Linked DNA regions of Homo sapiens: region 1 is linked to region 2. The links come from fine-mapping of genetic effects on gene expression. A gene starts in region 2. The other region holds a variant in brackets. All regions are shown on one strand. Distances are from middle to middle.

Region 1 (15,834 bases), 270 kb before region 2:
CTCTTTCCACTGCTCCTAGGACAGCCAAGATCATTCTTGGGAGCTTGGAATGGGGCATCTCTGCTACACCAATACTCCAATCTGGGTTTAGGGGAAAAAGCTACTGCAAATTACTTAGCTTGGCTTAACACTGGTAAACTATAAATATTTGAAGCCCAAAATATGAATCTGTCTTCAAAGGACTAATTTAATCAGTAATAAGGCTGTATAAAGGTTATTTGTTTTGAATAGGACAAGCTGCAGCCTGAAAATGGTTTTTTTTAAACACAGATTACAGCCCATGAAGGTAAAGTATTGATTTATGGTCTCCAAAAATATGCTATATATTAGAGTAATATTCCCCAAACCAAGCGAGAAATCATTAATAGCTGTATATTTGATTGACAAAAAGGTGGTAATACAAAGCCGACTTTTGAAAACTATATGTGATAGATTTGCAAACCTCTATCTCTTCCTACAAATCCCCAAAAGTCTCTACTGCTTTGCTTCAGGGTTTCCTCTCAGGCCCTAGCCAGGTCTTCCAACTCTCTTCATTTACTTTGGACTCAGAAACCATCAAGGCAAAACAATAGATTTTTTTCAAGAGGATTATTTGCATTGCTGATTGGGTATTGGGGATTGGGTAGCAGCCTCAGGAATCCCAGAGCCTTGGACCCACACAAGAACCACTGGACACTACCTGAGTTACATTCCTTCAGTAATGGAAGACGACAAATGCAGAAGCTCCTGAAGGCAGGAGGGTGGCTGAATTCAGAGTGAGGGAGGAAAACGCCTACAACCCCAAGTGTTCCAAAAGATTTGGCCATTGTTAAATAAAGCTGAAATTCACTTTTAAAATATCCAAATACAGTAATGACCACTGATAGTCAACATTCATTGGGCCTCACTAGGTGCAAACTTATTGGTGAGTTATTAAATATATTACCTCCTTTAGGCCAGGTGCGATGGCTCACACCTGTAAATCCCAGCACTTTGGGAGGCCAAGGCAGGCAGCTCACCTGAGGTCAGGAGTTCGAGACTAGCCTGCCCAACATGGCAAAACTCCATCTCTACTAAAAATACAAAAAATTAGCTGGGCATGGTGGTGGACACCTGTAATCCCAGCTACTTGGGAGGCTGAGGCAGGAGAATCAGTTGAACCTGGAAGGCGGAGGTTGCAGTGAGCCGAGATTGTGCCATTGCACTCCAGCCTGGGCGACAAGAGCAAAATTCCGTCTCAAAAAAAAAAATATGTGTGTATATATATATACACACACACACACACACACACACACACACACACACACACACACACATATATCTCCTCCTTTAATCCTTAAAACAGCCATGTAAAGTAAGCATTAAATGGACATTTACAGATGAGGAAACTGATGCTCAGAGAAGTTAATTTGCCTAAATTTCCCAGATTGTCAGTTGTGAAGCCAGTCTGGCATTCTTAGTCTTTCATTCTACTGTTTCCCCCAGCTTGGGCTAGAAACAGAGTTAATTCAGACTCTCTTGAATGGCTCATTCAGCGCTTTCATCAAGTGATTAAAATTAATGGTCACTAACCAAGTCCAGTGGGCCTCATTCCTGTTTTAAGTCCTCTAATGGCCCCCCATTGGTTTCTGGGATAAAATTCAAATTTCTTAACATGATTTACAAGGCCCATAATGACTTGGCTCCAGTATACCTTTCTAGCTTACCTACTACCAAGTCCTTGCACACGTTATGCTTGAGCCATATCTGCCTACTAGAGTGTGCCATGCTCTCCCTAACTTTCTGCACCACTTCACAAATCCCTTCGAGACCAAGGTTGTTAGAATCTTTTCCTTGAGGTCCTCAGGCTGAAATGGATGCCTTCACATTCTCTTACCATTGTGGAATATTTTGTGCATATCCTTATGACATTCATCATATTGTTAATTATTGATTTTCTTGTTTCTCCTATTTGGTGGTAACTGATTTAAGGGCAGGATTGTGTCCCTTTTATCTAAGAACTGGTAGTCCATGGCACATTGCCTGATACTTCATAGACAATAAACGAATGCTGATGGCATGACTGAAAATCGAGGGCTTTAGCAGCATTTGGGAATAGTTCTACCATCTCCTTGGGTAAGGTACACAGCAGGGTAGCGAGACTTGGGAAGCTGGAAGAAATGCTTACATTTTGAAGTAGTATCTGTTAAACCCCAATTGCAGTACAAGCTAGCTTAGGAAACCAAGTTCCATCAAGTATAGTTATAAACTTCCTGTGACCAGAGAGAGAATCATCACTGAAGGATGGAGAGCAGCCAGCAGTTAAAGGACTGGAAAACTCCTGCAGTGCAGAGGGCCCACATTAGTATGAGCAATATTTCTGGGGGTGGAGAATATACGCTGAATATTACCATTCAAAAATATTGAGACGAAGCATGACAACTATTTAATGTGATAGTTCTAATCACCAGCATAATTTCAGATTAAGCATTATATCAAACTTTCAAAATCAGTGACTGTCCAAAGGGTAAATGCTTATTTTCCACTCAGTCATATCTTGATCAAGGATCAGAACGAATGCAGAGAAAGGGATTTCAGGAGGTAATTAGAATACAGATAGTCCCCACTTATTGAGTGGAGCATGGACTGTGCCAGTATTTCCTTCAGTAAGCTACAAGAGCTCCCTGAGATGGGTACTATTATGTAGACATTACTGAAAATGGGACCAAATCTCAGACAAGTTTACCAAGTTGCCCAAACTCTCACAGCTCAAATGTGGTAGAGCTGAACTTTAAACTGAGGTCTGATTTTTTTTTTTAATTTATTTCAATAGCTTTAAGGGTACAAGTGATTTTTCATTACCTGGATGAATTGTGTAGTGGTGAAGCCTGAGATTTTTGTGCACCCATCACCCAAGTGGTGTACACGGTACCCAATATGTAGTTGTTGTTGTCCCTCATCCCCCGTCTACCCTCTCTTCTTCTGAGTTCTTATATCATGTCTGGTTTTAAAACATTTGCTCTTTGTGAAGATTTAGTTTGCCTTTAAATAATCTGTGGTCAGGCTTTACATTTTGAATAATGTTTTTTTTTCCTCCCTTACTTTGCTCTGAATAAAAATGAATTCAGATACTCAAATTATATTTATGATGTTATGAGGGAAGAGGATACTAGGATCATATAAATTCTTCCAAATCAATAACTGAATAATTTTCAAAGAGTGATCTTTTATAAAACCATGTCTGAATGAGTATATATTTCTGTATATCAATATGAGAAAATCTGGTTTGGGTAAGCATATCTCTCATGCCAATATTTATAGTCTTATTTTGGGTGGTTGTATGTTTTTCAATGGAAGGTTTAGGATTTTAAAAACAGAGCCTCTTAAAATTAAAACATATTTAATAAGCACAATAACCATCATAATAGTATACATAGAGATTGTAGGGGAAGGGTATAAAGGGGGAAAATGAGGCAAAGGAAATCAGTAACTGAAAATAAGATCTAGCTCTCCAAGTGCTCAGTTGTTTCAGAAACTCCTGCCAACTGGTAGACACAGCCTGGCTTTGAAACTGGGTGCATTGCCAGCTGTGCACACTATACATATTCATCTCTGGCTTGGCTTTTTCACTTTGCAAGGAAGGTAGCTGACATCTGCTGAGCAGGGCAAATCATGCAAAACAGGTTTCTCCACAGGGCTTTGCCTCTTCACTAGGACAGAACCCAGGCTGATGCTAAAGGCTTCCTCTCTATTTTGAAATCAATCCCCAAAAGAAAGTGCAACTGAAGCAGGCTTGTAAGGAGAGAAATGCAAATGTTGGCACAGAAAATCAGTTGCTTAAGAAATAATGAGTGCAAACCTGTGCATATTTTTAAACATTGGTTATAAAATATATTTGGATATAATCATTATTATCAATTGTACTGATGGATGCAACTATAGATTTTTTTTTACTTGGAAAAGGAATCATAAACACATAGCCTGACATAACCGTGAACTCTAGATCTAGATGACCTGATTAACAAAATCCCAGAACATTGCCACAACTTCATTATTGGTTGCAATGAAATTATATACAGTAGACGTTCTCTTAACCAATCTCCACTTAACCAATTTACTGAATTAATTGTGGCTGTTCGTCTTCCACCATAAAATGTACAGACCAATGCCATGGCATGCTCCAGAGCAATAGGTTTCTTTATGTTGCCCCTCTGGGCTTCTGCTCCTGCTCCTGCTTGAGTTGTAAACTTCAAAATCTAGAGGCAATTATATTTATTCCTAAACCCGTTTATGCCAGCTGTACTTGTTATTTTAACTATGTAATTTAATTAATCTTATATAACCTATGAAATATGAATGTAGTTGTTCTATGAAAACAAAATCCAATGGTTTGGAAAGATTCAATAAGGGTTCGTTAGGCAAAAATCTATGGCCAGGCGCAGTGGCTCACACCTGTAATCCCAGCACTTTGGGAGGCCGAGGTGGGCAGATCACTTGAGGTCAGGAGTTTGAGACCAGCCTGGCCAACATGGCAAAACTCCATCTCTACTAAAAATACAACAATTAGCCAGGAAAGGTGACACACACCAGTAGTTCCAGCTACTCAGGAGGCTGAGGCACAAGAATTGCTTGAACCTGGGAGGTGGAGGTTGCAGTGAGCAGAGTTGGCGCCACTGCACTCCATGGCACACTCCAGCCTGGGTGTGCCACACAAAACAAGAAACAAACAAACAAAACATCTACTGTTAATTACCTAATGGAAAAACTCTACAACATTGGGGAAAACCAAAATCTAGGTGGAGGAAGAATTCAGATTGCTATAAATTCTTTAAAGTCTCACTGCATTAAAAACCAAACCAAACCAAAATAAAACTGGAAATCATAAAATATATATTGTGGATACGGTTTAGGCAAACAAACAAAAAGACTTGTAAGTATAATCAGCAGAACCATATTAATAGGAAAGGCCTTGACTTTACCCACGAGATTGGCAAAATTGTAAATTAAACGTTTACTTTATGGATCCATATCACATTCTGTAATTCCCCACATTAGCTGACTCTTTTGGTGAATGGACACTTTTCAATTGGCTCTATATTCTTATCATAATCAGATAAGATGTCTCTTATTTCAGGGCTACCCAAAGTGTGCTCCTTGCACCACAGCTGTGGCAGCATCTGGGTGTTTATTAGGAATCCAGAATCTCAGGTCCCACCTGGGGTGGTGCCAGGATCTGTGTTTTAACAAGCTCTTCAGATATGATTCTATGCCCTCCTAAGTTTGATTGGAGGGCCTAAAAAATGTGTATAGCCCTTTTGAAAAGCAACATGGGGCATGACTGACTCATCAGGAATCATAGACATTTCCTTTGTATTCTTACTCAGCCATCCTGCTTCTAGGAATATTTTCTTATTTCAAAAGAAAAAAAAAGCTGGATAAAGATATCTATGCATAAAGATGTCTATAAGAGTACTATTTACAATAATGAAACAATTGGAAGCAATATAGTGATTTAAGAAGAGAAGAAAGGTAAATCACAGGCAGTCAATAAAAATGATAGATATTAAGAGTTTATAAAACGATCAAATGTTTACAATGTAAAATTAGGTAAAAAAATGCAACATTCACTTGGTTATAGTTATGCCATATGAATACCAATAAAAACTAGAAAACTACCAGTTTCACTGTATTAGATGATGATTTAGATTTCATCTTTAAAAATTATTTTCATGCAATTATAATATGTTTTCTATAATGAAAATATCTTAATGATATCATTTACAAGCACCATTATTTAAAATTTGTACTACACTCTCAGCACAAAATTTAAAGACTCTTTTAGCTGTGAAACACTGCTGCCACATCACTAGCCAGCTGTTGTATGTAAAACATCAAGATCTAATATCTTTGGTGACAGATGGGCAGTTCGAAAAATCAGTTTTAACTAAGGATGCTCTCAATACCTGAATTATCTTCATCTTTGCGGATTTTGAGCTTCACCAGGTCTTCACATTGCTGGAGGATCTGAACTGCATCTTCCATGGAACAGTTGTCCAGCCGGATATTATCTATTGCGAGCAATTTATCCCCAAGTTCCAGGGTCCCAGTTCTGTTAGTGAATGCAAAGTAACACATGACTAATGATGAGCACTTAACTAGGCCATTTAAAGAGGCATTAAGCATAATGCAGCATTATGGTAGTCTTTAGAGGAAAAGAGGTTCAACTGTTTTTAAATTGTACTTCATTGACAACTCCCTCCCTTCTTCTAGTCTTATTTGGGTTGCCTGCCATGATATTAAATTGCAGAGTATTAAAAACATTTTTTCTTATACTTTTTTCAATTAAACAAGAACATATGTGTCACTCAGGAAGCATACAATTCCTAGGAAGGGAGGTAATGGGCGAGGGTCTGCATAGACCCAGGTATCCTTGTCTTTCTCCATATTGTTGTATTACTTTTGATCCTTGGTAGTCCAGATACTAGGAGAGCATTAAGAGAATGACAGAAGGCAAGGTGTAATAGAGTTAGTGGAAGCCTAAGGCTTGCACCTCTGCTACTTCCACTTGCATCTGGAAACTCACTATGGCCAGAGTAGCATGAAAATTTATAGATGAATCCATAGCTTCTTATTTGGAAAGTGGCCACTGAGACTCTAAAACTGGCTGTGGACCAGGGTAGGTCTGTTGAAAAAAATTTTAAGGTCCATAATGAAACAACAAAAAAAATAATGTGAATGTAGTATGTATATGTTTCTATGTGTGTATATGTATATATACACAGATTTGTAAGAACAGCCTTTTATGCATTATATCTGTGCCAGAGACTGCTAATTGTCTCCCAGCATCCATTCTCCCTTCCCTTCTTTTAAGTTACCCTCTAAAAATGCATGCCCCAGACTCTCTGGGGACCCTCCCCACCTCCTGCCTGTAGCTAGAAAATGGTAACAGGAGGGAGGCGGAGCAAGGTGGCTGAATAAAAGCCTCCACTGATCATCCTCCTTGCAGGAACACCAAATTTAACAACTATCCATACAGAAAAGCACCTTTATAAGAACCAAAAATCAGATGAGCAATCACAGTACCTGGTTTTAACTTCATATCATTGAAAGAGGCACTGAAGAGGGTAGGAAAGAAAGTCTTGAACTGATGATGCCGGCCCCTCCCCCATTCCTTCTGCAGCAGCCACATGGCATGGAGAGAAAAACTGTGCACTTGTGGGAGGGAGAACACAGTGAGGGAGAGACTGCATTGAAACTCAGTGCTACCCTGTCACAGCGGAAAGCAACACTGGGCAGAAGTCAGCTGATATCCACGGAGGGAACATTTAGATCAGCCCTAGGCAGAGGGGAATCACCCATTCCGGTGGTCAGAACTTGAGTTCCAACACGCCTCACTGCTGCACGCTAAAGTGTTCTTGGGTACTAAATAAACTCAAGACAGTTTAAAGCCACAAAGACAGCAATTCCTGGACAAGCCCTGATGCTGTGCTGAGCTCAGAGCCAGTAGACTTGGGGG[G/T]CATGTGACCTAGTGAGAAACCAGCTGGGGTGGCTAAGTGAGTGCTTGCAACACCCCTCCCCTAGCCCTACACAGCACAGCTCACAACTCCCAGAGAGAGTCCTTCACTCTAACTGAGTAGAGAAGAGGGGAGAGTAAAGAAGACTTTGTCTTGCAACTTGGATATCAGCTCAGCCATAGTACGACAGGGCACCGGGCAGAGTCCTAAGGCCCCTTTTCTAGGTCTTTGCCCCGGGATAACATTTCTAGACACACCCAGGGCTGCAAGGGAACCTGCTGCCTTGAAGGGAAGGACCCAGTCCTGGCAGCATTTTTCACCTGCTGACTAAATATCCCTCGGGCCCTGAATAATCAGCAGCATGGCTGGGCGCGGTGGCTCATGCCTGTAATCCCAGCACTTTGGGAGGCCGAGGTGGGTGGATCACTTGAGACCAGGAGTTCAAGACCATCCTGGCCAGCATGGTGAAACTCGGTCTGTACTAAAAATACAAAAGTTAGCCAGGCGTGGTGGTGCACGCCTGTAATCCCAGCTATTCGGGAGGCTGAGGCAGGAGAATCACTTGAACCTGGGAGGTGCAGGTTGCAGTGAGCCGATTGCACCACTGCACTCCAGCCTGGGCAACAGAATGAGACTCTGTCTCAAAAAATAAATAAAATTAAATATAATAAAAAAATAAAATCAGCAGCAGTAGTCAGGTAGTACTTGCTGTGGGCCTTAGGTGAGACTCTGAGTTGTGCTGGCTTCAGGTGTGACCCAGCACATTCCCAGCTGTGGTGGCTATGGGGAGAGGCTGTTTCTGCTTGAGAAAAGCAGAGGAATAGTAAAAAGGACTTTATCTTGAAGCTTAGGTACCAGCTCTGCAACAGTAGGGTAGAGTACCAAGTGGGCTCTTGGGTTCCCTGATTCTAGGCCTTAGCTCTTGGACGTTTGTGGACCTGCTCTGGGACAGAGGGGAGCCCATCGCCTTGAAAGAAGAGTCCCGGCCCTGGCAGCATTCGCCACAAGCTGACTGAAGAGCCTTTGGGTCTTGAGTGAACATCAGCAATAGCCAGGCAGTACTTGCCATGGGCCTGGAGCAGTGGTGGCCAGGGGGAGAGACTTCTCTCCTTGAGGAAAGGATGGGAAGGACTTTGTCTTGTGTCTTGGGTGCCAGCTCAGCTATAGTAGAATAGAGCACCAGGTAGATTCCTAAGGTTTTTGACTCTAGGACCAGGCTCCTAGATGGCATCTTTAGACCTGCAAGGGGCCAGGGGGAGCTCACTGCCCTGAAAAGAAGGATACTACCCTGGCTGGCTTTGCCACCTGCTGATTGTAGAGCCTTTGGTCCTTGAGTGAACATGGCCTAGTGGTAGCCAGTAAGGGTTTACTGGCAGCCATAGTTGAGACCTAGTACCACGTTGGCTTCAGGTCTGAACCAGCATAGTCTCAGTGGTGGTGACCAAGGGGTGCTTGTGTCACCCCACCACCCCTCAGCTTCAGGCAGCTCAGCACTGAGAGAGAGACTATATCTGTTTGGAAGAAAAGGAAGAGAACAAGAGTCTCTGCCTAGTAATCCAGATGATTCTTCTGGATCTTACCCAAGACCACCAAGGCAGTATTTTTGAGTCTGCAAGAGCCATAGTGTTACTGGACTTGGGGTGCCCCCTAATGGAGATACAGGTGAAGTGACCAAAAACTTAGATCACAACACCCAAGCCCCTTCGAATACTTAGAAAGCCTTCCCAAGAAGGACAGGTACAAACAAGCCCAGACTGCAAAGACTATAATAAATACTTAACAATTCAATTCTCAGACACCAATGAACATCCATGAGCATCAAGACCATCTGAGAAAACACGACCTCACCAAGTGAACTAAATAAGGCACGAAAGACCAATCACAGAGAAATAGAGATGTATGGCCTTTCATACAGAGAATTCTAAATTACTGTTTTGAGTAAACAATAAAGTTTTGAGTGTGTGATAATACAGATCATAAATTCAGAATCCTATCAGATAAATTCAACAAAGAGATTAAAATAATTTTAAAAAATCCAGCAGAAATTCTGGAGTTGAAAAATGCAATTGACACACTAAAAAAATGCATCAGAGTCTCTTAACAACAGAATTGATGAAGCAGAAGAGATAATTAGTGGCCGGGCGCGGTGGCTCACGCCTGTAATCCCAGCACTTTGGGAGGCCGAGGCGGGCGGATCACGAGGTCAGGAGATCGAGACCATCCCGGCTAAAACGGTGAAACCCCGTCTCTACTAAAAATACAAAAAATTAGCCGGGCGTAGTGGCGGGCGCCTGTAGTCCCAGCTACTTGGGAGGCTGAGGCAGGAGAATGGCGTGAACCCGGGAGGCGGAGCTTGCAGTGAGCCGAGATCCCGCCACTGCACTCCCGCCTGGGCGACAGAGCGAGACTCCGTCTCAAAAAAAAAAAAAAAAAAAAAAGAAGAGATAATTAGTAAGCTTGGAGACAGGACATTTGAAAATACACAGCCAGAGAAGATGAAAGAAAAAAAAAAGCTGGGCCAGGCATGGTGGCTCACGCCTATAATCCCAGCACTTTGGGAGGCCGAGGTGGGCAGATCACCTGAGGTCAGGAGTTCGAGACAAGCCTGGCCAACATGGTGAAAGCCCGTCTCTACTAAAAATACAAAAAAAAAAAAAAAAATAGCTGGGCATGGTGGTGTGCAGCTGTAATCCCAGCCACTTGGGAGGCTGAGGCAGGAGAATCGCTTGAACCCAGGAGGCAGAGGTTACAGTGGGCCGAGATTGCACCACATCACTCAGCCTGGGCATCAGAGTGAGACTCTGTCTCAAAACAAACAAACAAACAAACAAACAAACAGACAAACAATGAAGCACACCTACAAGATCTAAAAAATAGCCTCAAAAGGCCAAATCTAAGAGTTATCGGCCTTAAAGACGAGGTAGAGAGAGGGATGGGGTAGAAATTTTATTCAAAGGGATAATAACAGAGAACTTCCCAAACATAGAGAAAGATATCAATATTCAAGTACAAGAACCTTATAGACCACCTGCAGGAATTTCAGCAACTACAAATGCAAAATAACTGAAATCATAACAGTCTCTCAAGACCACAGCACAATCAAATTAAACCCAAGATTAAGAAATTCACTCTAAGCCAGGGTTTTATGAATAGAACTCTGATCTTCTTGGGATGGAGCCCCTTGCAGGAGGGGAAGCCATGGTCTCTCTTGTTCAGTTGACTTAGCCTTTCCTGCCTGCTGGCTCTGGAGGGTCTGGGTGGTCTGGATGAGGGTGGTTCCCCAAATCACAGTGCACCTGCTCTGTCAAGCGGCAGCCAGACTGCTTTTTTAAGCGGGTCCCTGATACCGTTCCTCCTGACTGGGTGTGACCTCCCAACAGGGGTCTCCAGGTCTCCAGATCGGCATCAGGTCAGTGCCCCTCTGGGACAGAGCTCCCAGAGGAAGGAGAAGGCTCCCATCTTTGCTGTTTTGTAGCCTTTGCTGTCACAGGAGGGATCCAGGCTTGGGGTCTGGAGTAGACCCCCAGCAAACCACAACGGCACTACAGAAGGGGGCCTGACTGTTAAAAGAAAAACAAATAAGCAGAAAGCAACAACGGTAACATCATTAACGAAAAGACCCCACAAAAACTCCATTCACAGATCAGCAACCTCAAAGATTGAGGGTAGATAAGTTCACAAAGATGAGAAAGAATCAACTTAAAACTGCTGAAAACTCAAAAAGCCAGAGTGCTTCTTCTCTTCCAAATAACTGCGACACTTCTTCAGCAAGGGCACAGAACTGGGCTGAAGCTGAGATGACTGAATTGGCAGAAGTAGGCTTCAAAAGGTGGGTAATAATGAACTTCACTGAACTAAAGGAGCATGTTCTAACCCAATTCAAATAAGCTAAGAATCATAATAAAACATTACAGGAGCTGATGACCAGAATAGCCAGTTTAGTGACAAACATAAATGACCTTATGGAGCTGAAAAACACAACATGATAACTTCACAACGCAATCACAAGTGTCCATAGCCAAATAGACTAAGTGGAACAAAGAATCTCAGAGTTGAAGACTATCTTTCTAAAATAAGACAGGCAGACAAGAATAGAGAAAAGAGAATAAAAAGGAATAAACAAAACCTCCAAAAATATGGGATTATGTAAAAAGACCAAATCTATGACTGATTGGGGTACCTGAAGGAGAAGGGGAGAACAGAACTAAGTTGGAAAATGTACTTCAGGATATAATCCAGGAGAACTTCCCTAGCCTAGCAAGACAGGCCAACATTCAAATTTAGGAAATCCAGAGAACCTCAATAAGATACTACAGGAGAAGATCAACCCCAAGACACATAATCGTTGGATTCTCCAAGGTCGAAATGAAAGAAAAAAATGTTAAGCATAGCCAGAAAGAAAAGCCAGGACGCCTACAAAGGGAAGTCCATCAGACCAACAGCAGACCTCTCAGCAGAAACTCTACAAGCCAGAAGAGTTTGGGGGCCAATATTCAACATTCTTAAAGAAAATAATTTCCAACCCAGAATTTCATATCTGGCCAAACTAAACTTCATAAGCAAAGGAGAAATAAGATCCTTTTCGGACATATAAATGCTGAGGGAATTCATCACTATCAGGCCTACCTTGCAAGAGCTCTTAAAAGAAGAGCTAAATATGGAAAGGAAAAACCATTACCAGCTGCTACAAAAACACACTGAAATGCACAGACCAGTGACACTATGAAGCAACCACATAAACAAGTTTGCAAAATAACCAACTAGCATCATGATGACATGATCAAATTAACACATATCAACACTAAACTTAAATGTAAACAGGATAAATGCCCCAGTTAAAAGACACAGAATGGCAAACTGGATAAAGAGAGAGCCAAGACCTATTGGTATGCTGTCTTCAAGAGACCTATCTCACATGCAGTGACACACATAGGCTCAAAATAAAGTGATGGAGTAAAATTTACCAAGCAATGAAAAACTGACAAAAGCAGAGCCTGCACTCCTAATTTCTGACAAAAGATACTTTAAACCAACAAAGATAGAAAAAAAATGTTAAATTCAACAAGAAGAGCTAAGTATCCTAAATATATATGCCCCTAATACAGGAGCACCCAGATTCATAAAGCAAGTTCTTAGAGACCTATGAAGAAACTTATACTCCCACACAGTGACAGTGGGATATTGTAACACCCCGCTGACAATATTAGACAGATCATCGAGACAGAAAATAAACAAAGATATTCAGGACTCGAACTCAGCTCTGGATCAAGTGGACCTGACAGATATCTACAGAACTCTCCACCCCAAAACGACAGAATATACATTCTTCTCATTGCCACATGACACTTACTCTAAAATTGATCACATAATTGGAAGTAAAACATTCCTCAGCAAATGCAAAATAACTGAAATCATAACAGTCTCTCAGACCACAGCACAATCAAATTAAACTCAAGATTAAGAAATTCACTCTAAACCACACTACTACTTGGAAATTGAACAGCCTGCCCCTGAGTGAACCTTGGGTGAATAATAAAATTAAGGCAGAAATCAAGAAGTTCTTTGAAACTAATGAGAACAAAGAGACCAACAACCAGTTCTGAAATTGAGACAGTAATAAATAGGCTACCAACCAAAAAAATCCCAGGACCACATGGATTTACAGCTGAATTCTAACAGAGGTACAAAGATGAGCTGGTACTATTTCTTCTGAAACTATTCCAAACAATTGAAAAGGTGGGACTTCTCCCTAACTCATTTTATGAGGCTAGTATCATCCTGATACCAAAACCTGGGAGAGATATACAACAGCAAGTAAAAACTTCAGGCTCATATTCTTGATAAACATGGATGCAAAAATCCTCAATAAAATACTGGCAAACTGAATCCAGCAGCACTTTAAAAAGTTTATCCACCACGATCAAGTTGGCTTCATCCCTGGGATGCAAGGTTGGTTCAACATACACAAAACAATAAATGTGATTCATTATATAAACAGAACTAAAGACAAAAACCACATAATTACCTCAATAGATGCAGAAATGGCCTTCAATAATATTCACCATCCCTTCATTTAAAAACTCTCAATAATCTCGGTATTGAAGGAACATAACTCAAAATAGTGAAAGCCACATAGGACAAACCCATAGCCAATATCATACCGAATGGGCAAAAGCTGGAAGCATTCACCTTGAAAACTAGCACAAGACAAGGATGCCCTCTCATCACTCCTATTTAACATAGTATATTGGAAGTTCTGACCAGGGCAATCAGGCAAGAGAAAAAAATAAAGGGTATTCAAATCAGAAGAGAAGAAGTCAAATTGTCTTTGCAGATGACATGATCCTATATCTAGAAAACCGCATCATCTCAGCCCAAAAGCTTCTTAAGCTAATAAGCAACTTCAGCAAAGTCTCCACATACAAAATCACTGTGCAGAAATCACTAACATTCTTATACACCAACAATAGGCAAGCAGAGAGCCAAATAATCAAAGAACTCCCATTCACAATTGCTACAAAGAGAATAAAATACCTAGGAATATAGCTAATAAAGGAAGTGAAGGACCTCTTCATGGAGAACTACAAACCACTGCTCAAACAAATCAGAGAGGACACAAACAAATGGAAACACATTCCATGCTCATGGATAGAAAAAATCAATATCATGAAAATGACCATACTGCCCAAAGTAATTTATAGATTCAATACCATGCCCATTAAACTACCATTGACATTCTTTGCAGAATTAGAAAAAAACTACTTTAAAATTCATATGGAATAAAAAAAGAGCCTGTATAGCCAAACCAATCCTAAGCTAAAAGAACAAAGCTGGAGGTATCATGCTACCCAACTTCAAACTATACTACAAGGCTACAGTAACCAAAACAGCACGGTACTGGTACAAAAGCAGACATATAGACCAAAGGAACAGATTAGAGAACTCAGAAATAAGACCACACACCCATAACCATCTGATCATCAAGAAACCTGACAAAAACAAGCAATGGGAAAAGGATTCCCAATTTAATACATGGCACTGGGAGAACTGGCTAATCGTATGCAGAAAATTAAAACTGGACCCCTTCCTTACACCTTATATAAAATAAAATAAAATAAAATAAAATAAAATAAAATAAAATAAAATAAAATAAAATGGATTAAAGACTTAAATGTAAATCCCAAAATTATAAAAACCCTAGAAGAAAATCTAGACAATACCATTCAGGACATAGGCACAGGCAAAGATTTCATGACGAAAATGCCAAAGGAAAATGGCAACAAAAGAAACTTTGATAAATGGGATATAATTAAACTAAAGAGCTTATGCACAGCAAAAGAAACTATCATCAGAGTGAACAGACAACATACAGAATGGCAGGAAATTTTCACAATCTATCCATCTGATAAAGGTCTGATATCCAAAGTCTACAAAGAACTTCACTTCTCAAAAAAAGATATTCATGCAGCCAGCAAACATGAGAAAAAGCTCGTCATCACTGATCATTAGAGAAATACAAATTGAAATCATAATGAGATATCATCTGATGCCAGTCAGGATGGCAATTACGAAAAAGTCAAGCAACAACAGATGCCGGTGAGGTTGCAGAGAAAAAGGAATGCTTTTACATGGTTGGTGGGAATGTAAATTAGTTCAACCATTATGAAAGACAGTGTGGCGATTCCTCAAAGATATAGAAGCAGAAATACCATTTGACCCAGCAATCCCATTACTGGATATATACCCAAAGGAATGTAAATTATTCTATTATAAAGATATATGCACGCTTATGTCCACTGCAGCACTATTCACAATAGCAAATACATGGGATCAACCCAAATGCCCATTAATGATAGACTGGATAAAGAAAATGTGATATATATACACACAGAATACTATGCAGCCATAAAAAGGAATGAGATCATGTCCTTTGCAGGTACATGGATAGACCTGGAAGGCTTTATCCTCAGCAAACTAACACAGAAACAGAAAACCAAACACTGCATGTTGTCACTTATAAGTGGGAGCTGAACGATGAGGACACATGGACACATTGGAAACAACAACATACACTGGGGCCTGTCATGGGTGAGGTGATGGGAGGGAGACCATCAGGAAGAATAGCTAATGGAGACTGGGCTTAATACCTAGATGATAGGTTGATCTGTGCAGCAAACCATGGCACACATTTACCTATGTAACAAACCTGCACATCCTGCACATGTACCCTGGAACTTAAAATAAAATTTGAAGAAAAAAAAAACACGACGAATTTTGTAAACTATGCAGACACATGGAAATGAAACAACCTGCTTCTGAGTGACCTGTGGGCCAATGAAGAAATTAATAAGAAAATTAAAAA
Region 2 (15,834 bases):
TAAAAATCTGCAAATAAGATTTTCTTCTGTATATTTAATAAAGCAGCAGTTACTAATTTTAAATTTAACATAATTCTCATGTATATGGGCAAAAAAGTGGTAAGAAACTAAAAGAGAGAAAAAGATGAGTTTCAAACACTGACGGCTTGCCTATCCCTAGAAACTATGTATTTTGCCTCCTCTCAAATAGTGGGAAGTTATCAAATTATATATTTTCCGCCAGAATAAAGTGAATTTACTAATATAAGAATTTCAAATAAATCAACTGTAGTAGAAAATTAAATCATTTTGTTATAGCTAACATGAGTATAAAACAGTTTTCACAAGTAATTTTTAATTTACAGATTAAGAAACTGAAATTTAGTGGGGGAAATTCAGTTTTTTTGTTTGTTTGTTTTTGCCACACAAGTAAAAATAGGAAAGCTAGGAAAGGTTGACATATCTTCTAATTTCTAAGTCTATTCTATTTCCCCTACCATAAGGAATGCTGAGAGATTAGTGTGGTGTTGTCTTGATTAATTTCTCTTTATTATTCTAGATAGGCAGGTCTATGGTTTCTATCCGTTTCTAGAAGAGAAAAAAAATGGCAAAAATGAAACACTGGGGTTCCTCCTGTCCTCCACTTGTGATCTTAGGAATGATTCTTAACTTCTCTGAACCTCTTCTTTTTCATCTGTATGGTGGGGATAATGACGATAATATTGCAAGATTTAAATGAGTTAGTACATGTAAAATGTTTAGAATAGTACCTGGCAGAAAGTAAGTGCTCAATAAATGTTAGCTATCCTTATTTCCATTCTTCCTCCTAAACATTTCCCAAAAGTATATAAGTTAATCGATTAGAATGCCTATCCTACATTGGCCCTCCTTTTCCCAGTAATGAACCAGATATTTCTTCCTAACCTGCTACAATCATATAAGAAGGGTGTAGACTCCTTCTTGTTTATATGGGGTCATACAAGGCATAGCCAAAATTTCCTCTGGAGGATGGGTACCTCCTGGAACGAGGTAAAGTATTTCTAGCATCCAATTCCCATTTGGAAGACAGGGGAGAAATAAATGCGCCATTATGATAATTCTAACTAGTTATATAAACGAAAAGCTTCAGTCCAGTGGAGAGTAAAGCGGTCCAAGCCACTGTTCAATGTAAACTCCCTCAAAGCATGGGCTAGAAGCACAGCAAGAAATCCATCACAATCTGGACCACGAGCAGCACTTGCGCGAGAACAAGACCTGCCTGGGACCCAGCTGCAGCATTCTCCTGTTCAAGTGGGGTCTCTCTATTTGCAAGAGAAATATGCCCCATGCCCTAGCAATAGATGAAACTCCAATAAAACAAGACAGACTTACTTTGTGAAATATCTATTAAGTGCATATTATTTTAAAAAGTTGATAGGCTAGAAAGATAAATACGTTAAATGCACTAGCTTTGATGGCATGAAATGAAGGGGTGGAGGCAAAGCAGAAAGGACATGGTTGCAGGTGAGATTTGGAAAGGGGTGGAAAGTTAACGAGGTGGAGGATACAGTTAAGTTGTTCCAGATGGCAGGATCTGACAGAGAAGGCCAGCGAGGGTTAGCAGAATGGATGAGGATGGGGAGACAGGAGAAATGAGGTCCAGCACAGAGAGAGAGAGCATTCTCAACCCAGATGATGATCAGTTCTGAATCATATCACAGAGTGGATGAGGAATCATTAGAGAAGACTGCTGAAGGAACCACAAGGCTAGACACAGACAGATGGGAAAGAGCAAAGTGACCAGAACAGAAAATCCAAGGCCACCAGCAAAGGAGCCATCAGGTTTGGAACACTGATACTGAACTCTGTGATGGATTCAGAATTCCTTGGATTAAAAGATTCTGCAGATGAGAAAAGATGGGAAATATTTTTCCTCTTCCATTAAGACAAAACATTTAAATGTGTTTCTTTAATTAAGATTACACTTAGGAAATGAGTTTCTAAATAGAAGAACTTTTAAACACAGGATGAGTGTCAGAGTTTAAAGGGATTTAGACGTCACCTGAGTAATCCATTAAAAGTTTATCAGACAAACTGTGAGATTGTTCTTGTCAGAGAGAATTGAGAATAAGATTACTGGTTGTCTGAGATGGTTGAGTTTCAGTTCTCTCTGGAAACAAGTCCTAGACGAATGTCTGACCTTCCCTTTCAAGCATAATGATTCCATGATTGGGGTAAGTGTAAGGAACAATGACTGAAAAAATGAGAGTGAGTGTGATCACAACCCAGCCTTTTAATCTTGCTCAGTGCCAGTGGAGAGAGCAATACCCATACATGCCCAGACAGCAGAAAAGGAGAAAAGATACTGAGGTTGGGAGGAGAAATCAGGAAGAAGAGAGGGAGAGAGAAAGAAAGTAGAATGCACAGCAGGGAGCAGTTCCCTGCCAGCCACAGATGTCTCACTTAGACACCCCATTGGGATGAAGGTCAACGGGGCTGCTTATAGTTTGTTAGTGGGAAAGGGACAGGGAGAGTTAATTCTATTTTAGGCCATATGTGTATTTGGGAAGAGAGAGAAAGTGAAGATAAGTAGAAAATAAAATGACACGTAGGCCAGCTATGATGAAAAATGTTGAAGTCTATACTAAAGTGAAGGCAAAGGTTTCCGACATGAGCTTTGAGCCAGTAGAGAAAAGACAGAGAGAGAGGGTGGGTGGCAGCAAAACAATGAAAGGTGCCCAGAGCCGTGCTCCCTGTGGAATGTCAGTAAATATTAATTGGCTGATGTTGGCATTGGTAGGCAGAGTGAAGCTTGTGAAAGAAAAATGCCATTGCCAGTGGAGCACGAAAGTTCAGATCTCGGAGCTCAAAATGGCAGCACCTGAGCAAGCAGCAGAGTCACATCCCATATCACCAGAGAAAGTGATTCTCTGCATATGAGGCCAAACTGTCTCAAGGAAAAGTAATCACACAATCATGACAAGAGAAAAAGAACAAAGTCTGTGGGAGCCATGAAAATATCTCCCCTTCTCTGAGAACATACTCCCTTCCCCTGAGGTATGGTAGCCCCTAGCTGAGAAACCAGGGCTGTCCCAGGTAAACAGCTGTGAAGGTAGGTGCCAAGAAGCCTAGATTTACCCACTCCAGAAAACCCTTTTGTCAGATGTCTCTGGAAACCTCACAAAATGTTATTTTGGGATTTGGCTCTAAGGTTGGGTAATTGGTAGACTCTCATTCTGGAGGAAGAAAAGAACGGCATTGCTTCTTTAGATTTCAATATTAGATGGGAAACGGAATGCTTTTGACGGTGCTTGGTGTTTTCATGAACCAAAGTTCCTCTCATAATGGCAGGCATGGGCCTTTTGGGTAAAGGTTATTTTCTTGCTCTTGTTCTACATTGGTAGGTACCTGATAAGGCAAAATGATTGAAACAGTGGCTTGAAACATTAATAAGAAAATGACTCAATTCCCAAGTCAGAGAAGTGCTAAGTTTACCTGAAATATATTCTACTATAATACTGTGGATCAGTGTCTATGTGGAGTGATCCAAGGACTTGTCTAGAAATACATGTTTTATACATCTTTTAAAATTACATCTGACCTAAAGAAAAAATATTTATTGTTCAATAATATATTCATTTTAAAAATGCTTTTTACACCTATAAATTGTCCCAGCCCAGAATTCTAAGTGCAAAAATGTCAGTGTCTGGCACATAGTAGGTACTTAATCGATATTTGTTAAGTATGTATTAGATATATGAAGAATGTAAGAATCAAGTAAAAATATCAAGAATGTGGGTGTTTGTAGAAAATTGTTTCCCTTTTATTCCATCATTTTCTCCTTAAGAAAATTAAGAAGAAATTGCAATTGCCATATTGCTTTTTCTTGTGGGTGATATCAACCACAAATAGCAAGGTAGTTTTGGAGTCATGAAGCAAACTTCCCCCTGCTAAGATCTGGGTAAGGTTTTAGCCACAAGAGGCCTAATAAAGCTCTTGAAGCATTTCCTAAGAGCTCACAGAAGATTTAAATGCCCTACTACTTTCAACTAGACAAATCCAATTCATTTTAACAAACAGTTTTGAAGTGCCTACTAAGTGTAATGCCTTGTGCTAAATGTCTGGAAGAGTGAGTGTTAGGTGGAGCCCTCAATGGGTATAAAGAAATATGTATGTTTGGGAGTTGAGGGTGAGGGTGTGGGAGTTGTGTGAGTAGGGAGAATGGGACAAGAAAGAAACTTCAAGTGTATATCCACCCCTGTCCCCAAATACACTCCTGACCCTAAAAGAAAGGTCATTTTAATATTGTAATTACATATGTTTCCTGGTTTTATCATTACAGCTTAAGAAAACAGCACCACAAGTATGGGTGGGGTGCTAGAACTCAATGAATCCACTTTGGAACAAGAAGCATGGGTGGAACTTGAACGTTGTTGGACAAGACTGAAGCAGATGGCAAGGCAAGGTACCGTGTTACTCAGGTGCATTCTTGTAAGTATTTGGACAGCCAGTTAAACACAAAGAAGAACCCAATTATGGCAAATTGATTCTGCAAAGAGATTTTATTTTAATCATCAACTGACAGTCTTAAGTTAAATACCAAATAGAGCAGACATAAAGATTTTGGAAAAAAGTGTGAGGTAGCAACTCCAAAGCAGTTATCAATACTTTCCTCAATTATCTAGATTTTTAGCGACTATCTTAGTAAACACTTAAATCTCCTTTCAATGCAGGAGATCAATGCTTCCATAAAATTCAGAAAACTGAGAAAGTTAAAAATATTTGTAAGAACTATAAATTGCTTGGGTTCACTCTCTTCCTTGTATGTAGTACTTATAAAAGAACTGATACAGATGAATAGAAAATACTGATTGTTTCATGTTTATGATGTAAGAAGACCATCAACTTCTCAACATCAAGATAAGTAAATGCCAAAATCAGGTCAGAAAAGAACTTTTCAGAATAAGGGCCTGCCTTTAAAAGTCTCAGCCAAAACCGTAACAGAAAGGATAGTCTCTTAGTCATGATTTATAAACAGAAATTGTACGTCTGTACCAATTGTAGAGGATAAAGTCAAAACAGAATTTACAGCCTCCTGCTAATAGCCTAATTTAAAATGTATAATCTTCCCTACATTTCCCCCAAAGTACCTTTTAAAGGACTCACTCTGCTATCCAAACAACTTGCAAATGCATTCGGTAAGTTGGTCTACAGTATTTATTCTCTTTCCTGTTATTGACTCAAGATCTATTTCTCATGATTTGCTTTGTGCTCATTCTTCTGCCAGATAAAATATTAATTGCATTTTTAGCTGCACTGCTGGTGATCAAAGAATTCTGATATGTCAAGCTAAACTGACAGAAATAGCATCCATTAACATATTTATAGGTTCAGAGCTTCTAGAACATAATTATATCCATTAATTACTCAACAGTACTCTATATTACAGGCTGAAAAAGAAAGGCATTTGCAACTAAATACTTTTACTCAGAATGAAGTTTTTTTTTAAATAATAAATTTTCTCTAAGGAAGGTTCTATCTAAAGGAAATAAGGCAAGAGAGCTCACATATCTATATGGACACAAGGCAGGATTTTTAAGGCATCCATTTACTAACTTTGCAATAGAATGCTCACAAAGTAAACGAGATGGCACATCCAGAATGGTTTCAAATAAAATAATACCTTAAATATTACAGAGAAATTTAATTACTATTTTAGAGTTCTAAGAGTGACAATCTGAAGCTGGTAATTCTTGATGATAAGATTCCGAGCAATGATTTTTACTTTCAAATAAACTTCTAGTATTACATAGGACCAAAGCATTTGGAATTACATACTTTTCTGAACATGCAATTCTAACACATAAAGAAATTAAAGCTGTCCAGGGAAAAAGCTCTTAAGATGTTGGAAAGTCATAGAACAAACAATTATTCTGTGGATCCACCAGCTGTGCGAGTCCTGAATCTGCCAGCTGCATTTAGTATATGTATCATAGAAAGGACAGTAACACACACTTGACTCCTTTTGGCCAGTTAATCAGCATGCAAAATGACGGTTTCCCACAATAACTTCAGCACCGGACCCAAACACATTCTCTTTTCAGCAAAGAATGAAGTCATTAAAAAAAAAATCACACAAGCTGCTTTCATAATTTCAGCACGAACACAACCGAGATGTAAGGACAGAAAGCAAAGCCGAGTCTACCTGTACATATGTATCTATACATATTTCACTGAGTTCTTTGTTGCCTGACAATAAATTGCAAAGGCAGTCATATTTGAAAGTAAAAACCATTAAACTGTGTTTATAGGATACTGCAACAGACTCGCTGAGGGAATAACAAGGAAAGCACGATACCTTTAGTAAGTCGCCTCAGAATTTGACAACGGCATTTAAAAGAGACAGCTATCATTCTTGCTCACTGCTTTCTGTGGCAAAGTGTACTCAAGGCTCTCTGCTCTGGTGGCTGCAGCAGCAGCAGCATATGAATTCCTTGCGCACATACCAGGAGAAAGGTAGTCCCAGTGGGGAGTGACAAAGCTTAATTCCTCTTGGCTGATGCAGAGGTCCGCTACATGTCATCTGGCAAATCTGTGTCATTCACTACTACTACCACCCCTGCCTGCCACAGCCTCCTCCCCCTTCACAATCACAATGGCTTAGAAAGTAATGCCGTTTCGATAGCAACAAAGCACCAAATTGTACAAAGCAGGGACGACACTGTGTGAGGAGCCATTCCATAAATCTAACGCTAAGCACTGAACAGTGCATTCTGTTTAAGGCAAAAGGCGATGTATCCAGTCAGTTCAGCCACCATCAGCCCCTTTCCTTCTCAGCATCAAGTCAGTGTCCTTTATATGTCTCATTTAATGGGAAATGCAAGTGAAATGCTTACACTCTTACTTTAGGAAGAAATGCATGGGTCATGTACTATGTTCTTTAAACAACAACCAAAAAAAAAAAAAAAAAAAAGGAAAGAAAAAGAGGGAGGGCCGTTTATATTTGGGATTGAGGAAAGAATCACAGTTCTGCCTATAGCGGGGAAGCAGCTCTAGGACAGAGACCTCTTTGGTACTTCCTGAACCTATGAGAGTTAAGGCAGTGTCTGTTTATAGAGGGAATACAAGAAAGGGTTAGGGCTAGGCAGACAATCAGGCAGATGGAGTCCCAGCCCCTTTAATCACCCTTCCAAAAAAGGACTTGGCTGGAAAGCAACACAGTCAAGACTGTTTCTAAAGATACCAGAAATAAAGGCAAACAAGGCCAAGTATTTCTATTTTTAATATACTTTATTATACTATTTCCCAAACAACCATCCCCCAAACCATTCTTCTCATTATGCAAATAAAACGGTCTTGCGACATAGCAGATATTTGTGAGTATCTGCTCCAATGGAGTGAAGAGCAAATTAACAAACCCTTCACAATCCATTCACAAAGTGATAAGAAGGCGGAGCACACCTCCTCATCTGCCAGCAGCAGCCTGCTCGCCATATAGTCAATACGAACTAACATTTGGTAGGGAATTTTAATCAAAATCCAGAATTCTCCCACAGGAGTTAACATAAACATTCAGGACAAAAAATTAGACAGTTGGCCAGGAAGTTTAAGAAAAAAAAAATCAATTAGTCAAAATGAAAAGATATATCACTGTCTAAACTACTTGATTAATATTTCTAGGACTTTATGAATTATTCATACAGTTTTATTCTCTACTCTTCAGGCTGTGAAAAAACTTTCAAGCTGGTTTTTAAAATAACTTCCAACATTCCAAATTTAGTGGTAAAACTTTCTTTTCTTCATTCATAAATTCAATATGAACTCAAACAATTTCAATCCACTGCTATTGAAATGCATATGCTTTGTATTTTGAGTCCAATAGAAAAATAATTTGTGTGTGAAAAACATCTGAATATCATAAGCATCTACTTTAAAGGTTTTTGAAAAGAACAGAATTCTTTTACCAAGGATGGTCTAGCTAAAGCAACCACTAATCAATAGAAAATACTATATTAAATGGACTGCAGTGCAAAATCAAATTTTTATAATTGTTCTGATTAGCATAAATCTTTCTTTGAATTTCAACCCATATTATGTTCATCTCTATTAGGTTATCCCTAGAAATAGTTTAGCCTCCTTGATATTTTTTTGCTTTAAATAGAAATATACCTTAGTACTAGAGAACTGAGTTACTAGCTAAAGTGAGATAAATACTTACAGTTAGCTCTTTCCAAGATTCTTCTCCAAATCTAACATATTTCCTAAAATCCAGGCACTCAGAATACGCAGCTGTCAATTACTATTAGTAGAATCTTGCCTGTGGAACACCACCACCCCAGCCCAGTCTATTCAAATACAACTCAAAACCATACAGGAATCTCTTGCCTTCTGCTATTTTGCAGACTCAAATCCAATTTGCTTTTTCCTTATGACTAAAATGATCAAATATTTTCCCCTTTTCCTAATATGCTTATTTTTTTTGTTTTGTTTTAAAAGCTCTATCCTCTGGTCCCAAGAAAGGTCTTCAGAACTACTAAAATGTCCTATTTCTTTGGCAGGGGAAATAACCCATCATGGAGCTCTTTGAAAGGTTTCTGAGAGCCCAAACTAGGGGATTGTTTTTTCTCTCTTTGAATACTGTGGCTGCCAATCCATATCTATCCTATTAGTCTGCCCAGGTGCAGCCCCAGGAATCTTACAGAAATGGAGCCTCCTGGAGTAATTCTTTTCCAGAAAATGAACGAATTCACCAGGTATTCCCATCTTCTTCCATTTCTGGCCTCGCTAATGCTTGGAGATTTCCTGGGGAGCCACTCCCAGGTCAACCTTCTTGCCCTAAACCCTTTGTCCTCCCTTTGCCTAATGCAAGCTTAGCCTCCCATCCTGAACTCTAGCACTGGTAAAATGCCTTCCAACAATGCAAGCCTTCTATCTCAAAATGTATCGATCTGTAGGATGAAGGTCTCAAATGGCCAAGGCAACCGGTGGAATGTGGACCACAGGCTCCTAACATGAGCTACTACAAGGCAGAGTGACCTACATTTCTTGGCTACCAGATCAATGTAAGCATGTGTCTTTGGGACCTGTCATGAACATGTTAATTATGGTGGCTCAGCTGTCTAGACAGTTCAAACTTTACAACATGCTCTGTGAGGGTCACCAAGTAGGGGTTATGGAAAAAGAAGGCAGGTAAAATTGTACAAAATACAGATTTGATTAAGCCCCAATGTGATCTGAAGAAGAGTGAGTGAGCTAGTTCAAGAGGTTTACCCCTCTTAAAAACACAAACACCTCAATACATGAAAACATGGGTTTGCTGGATTCAGGGCAGACTAGTCCCTTAAGATGATAATTCTTATTTCAGGGTTTCTTTAAAACATTAGTTTTGCTAAGGTGTAATACAAGTGTACCACGTTTACATAGAATTTAATGAATTAGAAGGCACTTTCACACATAATGTATCATGGAGCGACTCTGTTATAGGTTTTTGATGCAGAAAAGGAAAACTGGTTTCAGAGAAGGTGTTTTTCATCAAAGTCATTCAGCTAGTAAGTGGTAAAGAACAGGAAAGAACCATAGCTTCTCACCCCTGGCTAATCATTCTTTCTCCTCTTGTTTTTCACTGCTTCCTTGCCACCAATACAAAATGTGATCTAGTTTACAGGGGGACAAATTCAATTAACAAAGTACCTTTAAGTGCAGTTATCTTTTGACAGAGGGAAAAACTAGTGCCTATCACCTTCTCCCCTCTGAAGCACAGCTCATGGTTCTAGGACCACCCTGACCAGAAGGAACCAGAAACAGGTGACAGTTAAGGCAAGTACCGTCTGGTGAAAGACCATTACGTATCAAGTGTTTACAGGAATCCCTTCTCACTGCATGGTTAGCCCATCCTGACTGGCCTGTGTCATGCTGGTTTTGAAATATTTGGAATATCACCTCCATTGACAATATGGTACTAATTTTATCATAAGAAGGGGGTGGGTTGTGGTGTATGGACAAACAAAACCTTAAGATTGGCTCAAAGATTCCAATATAGTCTCAAAACCAAAGCATTCCACAGCTTCATCAGCAGGTGGCACACATAGCCCCATAATCTTATTCTAATTTTCTCATTTCCTTGATTCTCCGCCATTGTATTCATTCTTTTATATAACATCTCCATCCCAAAAATAAATAGCGCTGTTTGGAGGTTCTTCTGATTCTTAACAAGAAAGAATCATCATAAACCAAAAATGTTCTGCCATATGCCTAAACCTGGAAATTCATTTTGCAAAAAACCAAAACAATGAGGTTAATCCCACAAATACTCAACTATTTTATATCATTAGAATCAATTTGATTAAAGTGCTAAAATAATTTGCACTTTCTTCAACTTCATAAATCTTTCTGTTACAAAATATACCTGATAGATCCCATTTATTTGCTTATTCATTTAACTATTACATTTCTTTTCCTTTGCATGCTGTTGCTTAAAAATGCTTAACATGCTTAGCTCACTATTTAAACAGCATGGAACATCCTGACTTGGCTAGTATTGAATATACTGATCCCCACACCCCCTACCCTGCAACACATACACAGTTATTAAATGTTGTGTATTTCCCAAATCTTCCGGGTATTTTAAAACTCAGTGTTCTCGGAGGTCTTAAAATGCGACTCTCACCCACTTTTTCATCTCCTTACAGACAACGTCACTGACTCATTCTTAGCTTATTATAATCGGCCATTTTTACTTCCCTTTTCAAAGATGCCAAAAGCAACCATGAGCTCAAACATGTTATAATTCTTGTGACCACTGTCTGCTACTTAGTTCAACTAGTGTGTCAACATGAGACCAAACATTAGGGTCAGACAAGGGAGATGTACACTGAACAGAACTCGCCAGTAATGAGCTGTCATGAAGGACTATTAAAAAAGCAAGACCCAATTTGCTGACACAGGTTCTAAGGGTGTGAAAAGTTGGTGTAATTGCCCAAGACAGAATTTATCAGGCATTTTTTAAAGCAAATATTTTATGAGAAAACATTTTTATAGAAGTAATGATGCCCTTTAGGAAGTGTCATTAGGACATACTCTTGCAAATCTGGGGTGATTAAAAAGCACTTAGTAGCTCAGGGCCTCTGGTGTGTTGTGATATAAAAGGGTGGGTATAATGCACACTTCATGTGTCATTTGCTTATCTAGGCAGGGCTCTGATGCCCGTAACAGTGCCAAGGAAAGAAGGTTGCCTCCACTGAACATGAAGAGACCAGGAAAGCTCCTGTGAAGGTAACAACCTTAGAAATTCATCAGCTAAAAGCATCTGGTGGAAAATGTTAAAGATAGAATATGTAGAAATTGAGAAATGCTTGTACAAGAGGAAAAATCTACCAGAAATCATCCTCCTAAGAGCCTAGGTATGTCCAACTGTTTATGGAGGTATTATGTAGGAGAGAATGGTGTAATGGCCAAAAACACAGCTTGGAATCAAATTGCCTGACTTTGACTCTTGGCTTTTGCCACTAAATGGCTGCGTGACCTTGGGCAAGTTTCTTAACCTTTCTGTTCTTCATTTGCAAAACGGTAAAAATCATTTCTAGGCTTGTTTGAATGGTAAACTGAGTTTATCTGTGTAACGTGCCTAGAACAGAGAGCAGTAACAGCTTTTATTAGCCACTTTGTATTTGGTAGGAAATACAATTGTACAATTTGACACTTGCTTACAGAACCCAGACTCTTCCTTAAATTAGCTCCATGTGATTAGTATGGATTGGTTTGGTCAGAGAAATCATAAGCAGGTGGAATTGGGATTAACAAGTAAAACGCACCCTTTTCCACAACATTTTCTGTCATTACAATGGCACGAAGTAATTTCCCTTCTTTGACTCCTGCAACCTCTTCCTGTTCTCATGCCTCTTCTTTCTCTACCCTTAAATGTCGGAATTCCCCCAAGCTCTGTCACAGCATGTTGGTCACCTTCTTCAGCATTTTATCCTCTCCTAGGGCTCCAGCAATGACTTCTTTGCTTTGACTCTCAAATCTCAACTGTCAGCCCAAATTTGCTCCCTCATTTAAAACTCCCTTCCCCTGGCGGGGGACGGTGGCTCATACCTGTAATGCCAGCACTTTGGGAGGCCGAGGTGGGCAGATCACTTGAGGTCAGGAGTTCAAGACCAGTCTGGCCAACATGGTGAAACCCTGTGTCTACTAAAAACACAAAAATTAGCCAGGCGTGGTGGTGCACACCTGTAATCCCAGCTACTCAGGAGGCTGAGGCAGGAGAATCACTTGAACCCAAGAGGCGGAGGTTGCAGTGAGCAGAGATCCCACCAGTGCACTCTAGCCTGGATGACAGAGCAAGACTCTGTCGAAATGAAATGAAATGAAATGGAACAAAACGAAACGAAACGAAACAAAACTACCTTCTCTCATCCTTGAGTCCAACATCTGTGGGCAGCCTTCATGACCATCTCCAACTAGATTTGAACTGTATCAAGCTCCATTTCCTTCCCAGTAGGACACACGTTCCTCTTCCATGAGCTCACTACATCATCACCCTCTTTCTTAAGCTCACCTTTAAAATACCTCTTAATATACTCCCACCTGACTGCCAGCATCCTAGTCCAGACCTTCACAGTTACTGTGCACAGGAGTTTTCTCCTACAGACCTTTACTGATTACCTTGTTCTAGGCACTGAGGTTCTGGGCCCCACACATGGGTTCTTCCTCCTAACTCATCCCAGAATCATTGACCAACACTTGCTTTTATTTGTATGAATGTCTGAGTAGTTCTTTGGGGGCAGGGGGAAGTATTACTTTTCAAATTTTGTAGGGCTAGTCAAATTTTGTTCTTTTTTTTTAAGGGCTAAATTAATAAGTACTTTAATATAAATAATCTCATGGATTTAGGATATCATACAGCTGAGTTATGTCAGATACTTTGACCAACAATTTGCAGATAAAAGCACATTATTTGAATAATAAAGAAAAGTGGAAACCCAATAGGGAGAGGTTCTATATTTATCCAAATTAAAAAGATTAATTTTCAATACATAGACTAAAGCTGTCTTAAAAGAATGTTCATTTTCCACACTCCCAGGATATAGCGGTGGTGGGCTTATGCGCTACTAGGAAGGAAAGAAACACAGCTACTTCAAAAATCCAACCCCAACCATAAGGAGCAGTGATGTGCGCACAGCAGCTAGGTTAGATCAAGGGAAGAAATTAGATTTCTAAAACAGGTTGGATGAAGTAGTTTATTGACAGTACTCCCTCCATACCCAGCTTATCACCCTTTCTTGTTTTATTTTATTCCTATGTCACTAATCACCATCTAACACGCTACCTATTTGGATTATTTTTCTGTTTATTGTCTGCTGCTCCCTGCCCATGGCTTTTTTTAAAACTGAGGGCAGGATTTTTTGGTCTATTTTGTTCATTGTTTAGAACAGTACCTAGCACATAGCGCCAATGTTCAATAAACTTTTGTCGAATAAATAAATGTGAAAGGATTTCCCTTCTAGTGGATTTCTTTTATATGCAATACTGTTTGTAAAACTCTTATGGAAAAGAGGACGCTCATAAATTACTTTAAAAAAACAACAATAGCTCTGCCACTTTAAGAGAAAATTCTTCCAAATAACATGATTCTTGAATGTTAACTGTTTGCAGAGGAGAAAAAGGAAAAGGCATGTGTTTTGTGCCCACCTTTCCAGAGCACACCTCAGATTCATTCCTGGTGCTTCTGACAAGATCATAAGGACCCTGTTGTTCACCAAATATGAAGAAACATACAGCCCAGCTAGTTGTTCACTGAAGTCAGAGGCAGCAAGAGCAACAAAGAAAAAGGCAAAGTAAAGATGCTAAAATTAAAAATTTGTCTTGGTCTGTGTATGAAGGAAATACCAAATACACATTCATCCTGATAGTAGATTCTGGTCTAACATGCATAATTATAGCCTGTCAAGGACATAATGTATCTCTAAAGTAATTCATGCGTCTGTTTTTGGAAGCTCTAGTAATACATTGCTAAAAACTCTGTAATTCCATCTTCAATAGGGCTTTGTACTACAACAACCTCCAAACTAACCTGCTTGCTGTTCCAGCTGCTATTTTGATGACTTTCTTTTTGTGGCATAGGAAGGAGCTAAGTTTTCCATATTAAGAATGCATATATTAAAAACAAACTAACTACAAGACCTTCTTGCTGTTCCAGCTGCTATTTTGATGACTTTCTTTTTGTGGCATAGGAAGGAGTTAAGTTTTCCATATTAAGAATGCATATATTAAAAACAAACTACAAAGCCAGGCCAGTGGCTCACACCTGTAATCTCAGCACTTTGGGAGGCTGAGGCAGGAGGATCACTTGAGCCCAGGAGTTTGAAACCAACATGGGCAATATAGTGAGACCTTGTCTCTACCAAAATATTTTAAAACTCAGCAGGCTCATGTGATGGCACACACCTGTGGTCCCAGCTACTCAGGAGGCAGAGGTGGGAGGATTGCTTGAGCCCAGGAGGTTGAGCTGTAGTGAACCATGATTGTGCCACTGCACTCCAGCCTGGGTGAGACAGCAAGACCCTATCTCAACAAAACAAAACAAAACAAACAGACAAAAACAAAAACAAAAACCACTACAATAAAGCCTCCTCAATTCTAAGACACGTTACTCCTTCAAATAAAACTGTACTGACAATATTTTAAGGTATCCTATCGAGTATATATTAACATAATTATCTTTTCTGATACAATGAAGTGGAAATACTCTGTCACCCCTTCAAGCAATGTGTACTATGAGTCACCAAAACACATGCAATTAGGTGACAAATACTAACACCTAGAATATTTTAATCAAATATCACTAACTGTAATAATGGTGGAAAGTAAGGAAAAGGAAAATTAAACATGGGCAATAGGATGGTAGAGTTGAAAGATGTCTAAGGAGTCAGAAGCCTCAGGTTAAAATTCTAATGTAGTTACATATTGGCTGTTTCATCTTGGGTAAAAGTGACTGAGCACACCCCCTATGCCAGCCACCATGATGGGCCCTGGATGTAAAAAGGTGAAAAAAAAAATACAATTCCTTTGCTGGAAAAGTATATTCACAGGGAAAGTTCTAACTCACAATACTAAACATGTAGTTCTAAATTTTAACTTAAAAGCTACAGAACCCATTTATACCAAAGGTCAGTTAATCCACATGAATTGCTCATGCTTAAACAGCATCAAGGGCTCCTTCCTCTTCAGGGAATAACACCTTAATTTTCTCTTGCGGACCCACTCTCGGTCCATGTGGTGTGCATGGAGCTGGCACTCCCCTACGTCTACCCCTCCAGGTATGGGTATCAAGGCTGACTAAGTGGAACATACAATCCCTTAGTCACGGGGACTGGTCCAGAAATAGGCAGTCACACAAGCCATGCTAATGAGATGTAATCCCAGAACTTTTGTTAGAACTGCTGCAAAGAAGATAGTCTGCATTCCACTGGGAATGGCAGGCTATGTACTTGGAGTTGCTATCTTATCACCACATGGGAAAAGCTGACTTTGAATCATACCAAGACAGAGGAAAATAGAGTCGAGGGATGGAGAGTGACATATTCCTGGAGATGCCATTGGAACATCCGGATTCATCCATTTCTAAATCCCTAATACACCGGACTTAGTTACTTCGGTCAGTATGGTCTCCATTTTGCTAATTTAGTTGGAGTTGGATTTCTGTCACTTGGGATCAAAGAGTCTTGTCTAATACTCTTTTTTAAGCTTTAGATTCTTGATCTGCAAAATAAGGCAGTTGTGTCTCTAAAATTCCTTACAGTTCTACCATTCTGTTACAGTACTGAATTTACCAATTTCACTGGGCTGCTGTGATGATCAAATTAGATAATAAATAAG

The links. PIP is the estimated chance that this variant, and not a neighbour inherited with it, causes the effect.
Region 1: its variant is fine-mapped to the expression of GRIP1 in whole blood (TOPMed, PIP above 0.99). The same link has a PIP of 0.9 or more in monocytes.

What each region holds. Positions count from the first base shown.
Region 1 is chr12:66,400,362-66,416,195 of GRCh38, forward strand. GRIP1 (glutamate receptor interacting protein 1) reads right to left here. Exons shown (of 25, transcript NM_001366722.1): 16 at 5,922-6,067. Among named protein-coding and RNA genes, the nearest start is that of HELB, 110 kb to the left of the region's middle. RefSeq lists an enhancer at 7,464-7,964. The variant G/T (reference allele first, on the strand shown) is at 7,475.
Region 2 is chr12:66,672,534-66,688,367 of GRCh38, forward strand. It overlaps GRIP1 (glutamate receptor interacting protein 1), which reads right to left and starts at 6,543. Exons shown (of 25, transcript NM_001366722.1): 1 at 6,317-6,543. The coding sequence starts at 6,371.